Regions from separate parts of the Homo sapiens genome. Here region 1 is linked to region 2. Evidence: fine-mapped expression QTL. A gene starts in region 2. The other region holds a variant in brackets. All regions are shown on one strand. Distances are between the middles of the regions.

What was found. PIP is the estimated chance that this variant, and not a neighbour inherited with it, causes the effect. A credible set is the group of variants that fine-mapping cannot tell apart.
Region 1: its variant is the best candidate, but not a certain one, in a credible set for the expression of ELK4 in whole blood (TOPMed, PIP 0.74).

Annotation. Positions count from the first base shown.
Region 1 is chr1:205,597,541-205,601,931 of GRCh38, reverse strand. SLC60A1 (solute carrier family 60 member 1) reads right to left here. Exons shown (of 10, transcript NM_181644.5): 8 at 4,082-4,152; 9 at 2,681-2,801; 10 at 1-1,526. The coding sequence ends at 1,471. Among named protein-coding and RNA genes, the nearest start is that of SLC60A1-AS1, 30 kb to the right of the region's middle. RefSeq lists an enhancer at 768-1,967. The variant A/T (reference allele first, on the strand shown) is at 2,670.
Region 2 is chr1:205,629,318-205,633,708 of GRCh38, reverse strand. It overlaps ELK4 (ETS transcription factor ELK4), which reads left to right and starts at 1,698. Exons shown (of 5, transcript NM_001973.4): 1 at 1,698-2,077. RefSeq lists enhancers at 1,311-1,620, 2,231-2,650 and silencers at 1,791-1,940, 2,031-2,220.

The DNA of each region.
Region 1 (4,391 bases), 32 kb after region 2:
GCCATGGTATAAAGAGTTTTTTTCCCTCTATAAAAGATGTAAAATTTTTGGCTGGGTGCAGTGGCTCACGCCTGTAATCCCAGCACTTTGGGAGGCCGAGACGGGCAGATCATGAGGTCAGGAGATCAAGACCATCCTGGCTAACACGGTGAAATCCCGTCTCTACTAAAAATACAAAAAATTAGCTGTGCGTGATGGCATGCGCCTGTAGTCACAGCTACTTGGGAGGCTGAGGCAGGAGAATCGCTTGAAACTGGGAGGCGGAGGTTGCAGTGAGCCGAGATGACGCCACTGCATTCCAGCCTGGCAACAGAGTGAGACTCTGTCTCAAAAACAAAAACAAAAACAAAAAAAGATGTAAAATTTTCATTAGGTATTTTCAGAAAGTCTTAGTGCTGTTTCTATACCTTTTATATGCTAGTCAATGTCAGTAGAAAAAAATGGAACATCCATTTCATTCTCCTGGGCGATTTCTGGACCAGTTAGCCTTGATTACTAGCAGTGGTATGCTGGTAAATGTTTAACCACTGGCTCTCCGGGATCTGTAGCTTTTGCCAGTGTCCATGGTAATACTCCCACCAGGCTGATTTCAAGCTACCAACATGCTATCACGAAGAGTGGAGTTGAGACAAGGTGCACAGTAGCACACCATCATATATAGTAATTCCACCACACAGGTACCATGGACGTAAATTACCTCAAGAGCATCAAGATCAAATTAGGAAGTGATATGCTTTGAATATTTATTACCTTTGTTTTAAATGTAATTGATTTAATTATAAGTTTGTATGATTTGATTTTTAATAATGGCTGCATTTAATAACCAGCTGTCAAAATGAAAATTTTACAATCAGCTTTTCTAAGTTGGTATGAGCCAGCTTAGCATACCACTACATTAGTATACCAAAGAGAGCAAGATTCAACTTTTCCTTTTGGTGTTTGAGAATATAGATAAGCTATTGATGTCTGCAGCAGGAATTTAAGAGACTTTGGACTATTAAGTGAAAAGCACGAAAATCCTTTGAGCATGCCAGGGAATAACTTGCAGCTTGTTTTGCTTAAATTGAAATATATCTACATATAGCAATGATCATGGAGCTTTACAATTTCAACCTATTTTTACAAACTTCAATGAAGAATGATCTCAAACCCAGAGTATGGTCCATGCATGAGGTGACAAATGGAGTGAAGCGCGCGGCTGTCTCCTTCCTTCCCATCTGGGTATCTGGACAGCTCTTACCAACAGTCTGAACCAGGGAAGAAGATAACTTGAGAAGCCAGGTAAACTTCTAATGATTTTGACCAGGTACCAGGACTCAATTTAATTTCCTCTACCCAACCAAGTTTTAGTGGAGAAGACTTGAATAGCCATTGAGAGAGCGCCTCCACCACCACCCAGCTTTCTGAAACAGTATGGTCGTGCTGGTGATCAAGAGGCTGAAAGTCTTCTCTTGCCTTCTTCACCCAGTTTTACCTCTGGTAGCACTCAGAGTTTTCCATTCCAATTGATCTGTCTTGGGTAGGAACTACAAAAGAAAAACAAAACAGGTAGCATGTTTCAGCAGCTCTGATGAGTTGCAGTGATGATTCATTCTGAGAGCTTACCCAGGCTGTTTGTTTCTCTGCCATTCTGTGGCTCTAGAGGGAGCAAAGTGAAAAGTCAGACCCCCTAGTTCTGGCGAACAGTTGGTGGAGGCAGTTTCCTGAGACTGCTGTCTAGGGCTTGGGGAATGTGTCTGTCTCCCATGAATAAGGAGCCCATTAAGTGTTATTCATTTAATGTTCAGCAAATATTAATTGAATGTAGGTCTTAAATGAAACTCCTGTGTGTGTGCAACCAGTACTGCTGTCTCAGAAGTGAGGCTATAGTTAGTGCTGTTTTGGGGGCCACCTTTCCTTCTGGGCCTTTGTACTGAGCGTTTAGAGCGTAGATATGTTCACCCACTGAGAGCGGATGGTGAATGCCTGTTCCTTTAGTCTTTTTGTGATGATTTTGCTTTTTATAGGGAGGACAGAGTCTCCGCCTGGGCACCTTCTCTTAAGAACTGGCTTTGCACACAGCCGATGCAGTCCCTGGGCACTTTGAAAGCAGTGGGCAAAAGGGCAGGTAAGGGCTCAGGGTTATGAAAATTGCTTTGGGACTCCCCCTGCCTGGGGTCTCTAGAAGGGAGACTATTCTTAGGAGGTGTCTGTGCCCTGAAGGAGACTTTCTTTGCTACTTGGCCTGAAGGACTTCTTTTTGAAAAAAAGATTTGGACTAGAATCAAAATCCTGAACTGCAAAGAGATGGCCAATTAGGCCGTTGGGCTGAGTTCCAGCCAAGGAGTCGGGCTCTGCCTTTCAGTTCCCTGAACAGGCTGGAAAGAGATTCTTGGCTCATGGTCCCATGACATGGTGGGATGCAGGAAGCCAAGTTCACAATCCATACCCCTCTGCTAATGGAGAAACCATGAGTCAGCCGACCCAGCTCTCGCCTATCTTAAGAGTCCAGCGCAGACAATCGTATGGAAAGCAGGAAGAGAGGAAAAGGAAGCTGTAGAAAAATAAACATTTCCTTGCATTTTACTTGGAACAGAGCAGCGTTTCTGGCACGTTAAGATCCATAGCATCTCCTGCTCCCCCGCTCCCCGACCCCGGCTCTGTTTTCCTCCTCTTGTGTAGAAACAGAT[A/T]CTTTCCTTACCTGATGGGAGTCCAGGGTGCATCCTGTGGAAAAACAGGAGCAAGATATAGAAGGTAAAAGCCAGACAACCAAAGATCACGCCACAGACCAGGAAACTATAGCTGCCCTGAGCCTGGAATATCTGCCAAAGGGGAAAACACAGAGAGACAGACAATTAAAACTTCACGTGGAAGGTGTATCGGAGGAAGCAGCCTTCTCCATCCTTGGCTGGTTTTTCAGCTAAGTTGAGGCCCGTCACACCAAGAGATGGAATCACGGGGAGGAGGGAGGCCTTGGCCTTGTTTCAAGTTGATGTGTCTGGAGAAGGCCGAAGTCCTGCTCTAAGGCAGGGACTGGACCTGGTGACCCCCTGCAGTCCCTTGCAGCTCTGTGTTCTGGAACCTTCTGACGATCTCTATCATCACTGAAGCTCCAGTCATACTAGGTGTTTCTATACCCATAAGCCCTAACCAGAACTTTGCAGAGGATATATTGTTTTACTCTTTTATTATGAGAATTTAAAACATGTTAAAGTAGTATATGGAGCTCCAATGAACCCAACACTCAACTTTAGCAGTCAGCACCGGTTTCATTGGTGGCCTTGCACTTCTTTTCTGCACTAGGTTACACTAAAGCAAGTCCCAGATGTCACATCATTTCAATGAGGAGGGTATGGTGAGATGCAGCTCTTCCCCTCCCTCCAGCAGGGCAAAAGAGGAGGAAAGGAGAATGGAGTCACAATGAGGGAGATTTTGGAGGCCGGAAGATCTAGATGTGAGGTCCTCTCTGTCAGTTTCTGGAAGTGTGACTGACCTAGGGTAAGTTGCTAAATTCATCTGAGTTTCCGTGTCCTCTGTTGTAAAAAGGGGAATAATATCTACATTATAGTATTCAATAAAAAGTAGATGTTAGGTTGTTTTTTTTTTTTTCCTGGTGAATAAATGAAACATGGGTGGATTTGAATAGAACTGGAAGAGTTGGCCCTCTCGGTCAGGGCAGGAGTTGAGCAGGAAGCTGGGCCCTCTGCAGGGTGGCCAGAGGCTGTGAGAGGTGGGGTAGGGAGTGGTGGGTTCCGAAGGGATGGAAAAAGAACTCTGACTGCAGTTCCAACCCATCTCAGGCTCTGAGAGCTAAACAGCATTCCCACGGGCCCCCTCTGGCCCTGCTCCCAGACATGGCTTGTGTTTGCTTTGGACTTTTCCATGCATCCGTTTACATCTCCAGATCCCACATATGGAGGCTCAGCTCTCAGGGCTGGCTTGGAAACGGAAACAGGTAACAACGGCACAGGGGGCCCTGCTGGCTTTGCTGGAGACTCAGGAAAGGGACAGTTTGAGTTCAGAAGGTGGCTATCTGCATCTTCTCACCTGTCAGAGGAGTGCTCCCCAAATGCTCCCCTCTCCCTTACAGGTCCCCACATACCGAACCAACCAGCATCTGCAGCACCATCTCGCCAACTCCTGCCCCTGTCACCAGCACTGTGGTTGCACAGCCTAACAAAAAGAGAAGGTTTGGTTTGGTAAAAGCAAGTTAAGGAGACAGAAGCCAGCATTACAATCCAGGTTGCTGGCCAGGCACAGTGGCATATGCATTTCGGAAGGCACATCCCAGTACTTTAGGAGTCAGAAGTGGGAGGATCTCTTGAGGCCAGGAGTTCAAGACCAGTCTGGGCAATATCACAAGACTTGGTCTCTACAAAAAGTAAAATTTAAAAAAATTAACTGGGCATGGT
Region 2 (4,391 bases):
GACAGATTTGCTATGACTAATTTAAGAACTCCCAAAGCAGGCTGTTTTCCAAAAATACACTGCAATTGACAATGCCGTAAGCTCAGTCTAAAAGGGATATGACACAACTACTGGCCCTAAGGCCGAATCAGATGTTTACTGCCAGTTTGAACAGAGCAGCGTAGTGTGCAGATCTCCACAACCCTTAACTGTTCTTGGTAGGGGGCTTTAAAATGAAATCTTTTTATAAACAAATGTTTCCAATAGGTGTATCCTAAACAGCCTACCTTAATACTTTTTTTTTTCTTGGTTTCCAAGATGGAACTTGTTGCAAGGAAAATTTTATGTTAGGGGCCAAGACTGCTAGTGCTTTTCAGATACTGCATGTTCCTTATAAAACATGTCTTAATATGTTTGCATGCTTTGGTAAAACTAATTTTGGAAAGGTAACATCTTTTGGTAGAGTTGTTTTTACAGGAATAGCTACCTTTGTGGATTATAATTACTCTGTATTATGGAAGAGGAGGCTGGAAATCAAGGAAGTGATGATTCTCTTCCAAAAGCCTACAAAAGGATGACAGAATCACATTTCACTCAGTGAGTTCAATTAACTATACATTCAATTGTGGGGGCAAAAATAAATGACACCACGATTTACTGGGTATCTACTATGTGCTAGGTAATGCACTAAGTACATTATGCTCTATACTTCATTTAATCCTCTCAGCAATGCTGCTCATTATCGTCATTTTACATGAGGAAACTGAGGTCCAGAAAGGTTAAGCAACTCACTACAGGTCACACAGCTAGTAAATGGCCTCGAATAACCAGTAACTCAGACACTGACCTCTCTTTGGTTTCTTGTTAAACAAACACCTAATTTATTTCTTGGAGGTTTTGTTCAGCTGTCCTAATTTATGACTTTACATTCCTTCTGGTGCTAAACTGCTCAAGTAGCCTCTTGTATCAAGTGTGACCTGATTCCTTAAGAATTTTACTTAATGAGAACCTCTAAGCTAGAAACTCTTGCTAGGTGTTTCATGCACCTTATTTTCTTTAATCATTACAACAACTCTAAGATTGGGTTCTCTCCACCTTATAAATGATGACTGTTTTAGAGAGGTTAAGGTTGCTTAAAATTGGTGAGTTAGTGAGGGGTAGAGCCACGAATGGATTTCTGGTCGCTGCCTCCATCGTCAGGGCAAGCTTTTCCCACGACTCCAGCGCTTCCATTTGTCAGTCCCCAGGCTAGAAAGCCACAGTGCTAATTTAGTATTTATCAAGCGTTTGTAGTGTCCTGGGATCTGGCACTTCGATGAGAAAGCTGTGACGGCCCCAACTTCTAACAGCGAGTGGTAAGGAGGACGAGGGACACAGGAGGGAGGAGACTCTCCCCAAAGCTTAGCACCAACAGAAGTGGTCCCCCGCAGGTTGCTCTGCGAGCGCCACCTCTTCCCTCCAACCGAGGAGAAAGTGGCGCGCCTTTGAGGAGTCCGAGGTCCCGGCCCAGGCGGCAGCTTGGGTCCTGGCGGGTTCCGGACGGGCGCCTCAGGGACCTGGAAGCAACCGCACCGAACGCGACGGAGAGCGGCGAGACGACTCCAGGAGGCGCCCGAGCTACATCCCCCGGCCACACCAAACCCGGGTTTGCTGGCAGACGCGGCTCACGACACCCCTTAGGGTCGCAGCCCCTCCCCCGGAAGTGACGTGTAGCGACTACGGCGTCTGGGAGGGACCCAGGAGCAGTCGGGGGGTTTGAGAGTGGCGGCGGCCGCGGAGGGCCTGGCAGGCCCCGCCGCTGCAAGGAACGCCCCGAACGCGCGCGCCCGGCGTGTAGCGGCCCCAAGACCCGCGCCGCCGCTGCCGCGTGCGGGGGCGGGGAGGGCGGGGCGCCAGGAGCCGCGGCGGCGGGAGATGCGGGCGGCTGCGGGCACCCGGCGGGCTCGGCTTGGCCGCCGCCGCCTTCTACGGCTCCGCCGCGGGGGTCGCAGCGGCTGCCGCGCCGTCCTCGAGTTTCCAGCGTGAGGAGGAGGCTGAGGGCGGAGAGGCGCATCGTGTTCGAGGCGGAGACCGAGGGGGAGCCCCGCGCGCGGCGTCGGTGAGCGGTCAGCCCCGCGCGCCCCCTCGGGATCTCGCGGCCACAGCCCCACCGGCCGGGAGCGGGGGCGGGGGCCGAGGGGCGCGCGGCACAACAGGAAGTGGGGGCGGGGGCCGGGGCCGGGCGCGCGCGCTCCCCTTGGGTCCGCCCCCGGCCCGCCGGGCACCGCGGCGCACAGGTGGACGCCGCAGCGCACCGCTCAGCTCTCGTCGCCTCTTGGTCCCCCGAAGTCTCGTGGGCGAAAGGTGGCGGCGATTTTTTCGGCGTGGATGGGGAGGAGGGGAGCAATTCTCATTTTCTGTAGTGACAGGAAGTTGGAAAATGAAAGTACAGTAATTCAGTGCTTACCAAGGCCCGGTGAGGTTGCACCTCTTCCCCCAGACTTTGATCTCCTGTAGGGCACACGCGGCCGTCCGCGTTTCTTCCTCTCCCCTAGCTCGCTAGTCATCCGGTGTCGAGTTTCATTTCTTTTTCTCTTTCGCTCCAGCGGCCCCCCGCCCCTCTTTACTTTCCGCCTTGTGCACAGCTGCATCGAGGCTGGTAACTTCATTCCTGGGAAGATCAATTGGAAACATCTTTCGGGGCGGGATAGTAACTGGCCTTGGAAGGAAATAGGGATGTTGTTGACTGAAGTAGTCAAAAGTACACACTTCACTTTTTCTCCAGCTATTGCTATTTGAAATTTGGGGAATTTAAATAAAGATTCTGGAGTTCTATGCCTCATCAGAATGGTTTGTCCATCTCTTTGGTTGATAGATCAGATCCTCTGTCGTCTTTTCCCACCCCCTACACCCCCTGGCTTGGAAAACTTGGTGCTTCAATATTTAGGTTTGGCAGCGGTGTTTTCATTAAAATGTAGTATGATTCAATATTTTCCCTTCAGGAACACTCTTCTCTTTGATTTTACTTAAACATTAAAACTGCGTAAGTGGAATCTGTTCATTCCTAGTGAGGTAGTGTCTTTAAGTTTTATTGTAAGAATATTGTAAGAACTGTGCAGGATCCTATACAAAGAGTATTTTTTAGGAGCCTGTGTAGTTAAAAACGTCATGTTACTTTTGGTTACTTTTTGACAACGGTGAGTATTTTGATTCGAAACTAGGCTTGATACATTCATAACTTGGTTTTTTAAGTAGCAGGCTGAAGAAAATTTGGAGACTTTGTGTTTTTTTGGGTCTTAGCTACTGTCTCTGAAAAATAGTTGGGCTATGGGTCACCACAGCAACTGGACTGTGTGTATTATAAACATGTTTAGGGTGGAAAAGGTTTTATTTAATAGAGACTTCCTTTCCTTAATACATTACTTCAACATGCTCCCTTTCAATTTAGGACAGGGATTGGTCTATCTTTGAAGTGTTAAAATAGAATCAATTATGTTTTCAGCCTTTACCCCCTCAAAAATCAAATACCTTCATTTGGACCAGTTAAGTGTTTTCTTCCTTTGTTATAACTTTAAACTTTAAAAATTGCAATTGTGGAAAACTCGGGATTCCTGTAAGAAGGAAAATCAAGTAATTAGCCTCTTTTTTTTTTTTGATAGGTAACAAGAATAAAAGGTTTTGTTTGGTTTTGTTTTGTTGTGTTTTTGTTTTTGTTAGAGACAAGGTCTCACTCTGTTGCCCAGGCTGGAGTGCAGTGATGTGGTGTCTGCTCACTGCAACCTCCATCTCCCGGCCATTCTCCCACCTCAGCCTCCCGAGTAGTCACGCACTACCATACCCGGCTAATTTTTTGTATTTTTGGTAAAGACAGGGTTTCAACATGTTGCCTAGGCCAGTCGTGAACTCCTGAGCTCAAGCTCCCCCCTTGGCCTCCCAAAGTGCTGGGATTACAGGCATGAAGCAACCACATAATTTTTAATAACTGTCTTAGGGGATTTTTTTTCTTTAGCTTTTATTTTATTTATTTATTTTTTGAGACAGGGTCTTGCTCTGTCGCCCAGGATGGAGTGCAGTGGTGTGATTTCAGCTCACTGTGACCTCCGCCTCCTGGGTTCAAATGATTCTTCTGCCTCAGCCTCCCTAGTAGCTGGAATTACAGGTGCCCACCACCACGCCCAGGTAATTTTTGTATTTTTAATAGAAACGGGGTTTCACCATGTTGGCCAGGCTGGTCTAGAACCCCTGACCTCAAGCGATTTGGTCTCCCAAAGTGCTGGGATGGTAGGCGTATGCCACTGTGCCCGGCCAGCTCTCTTTTATATCTGATGAAATCATTGAAGATCATTGTTAATACCACACTTTTTGAAACTAAAATGAAGAGTTTTGACTTAACTATGTAAGAAGACGTTGGCTGCTTTTCAATCAAAAGAATA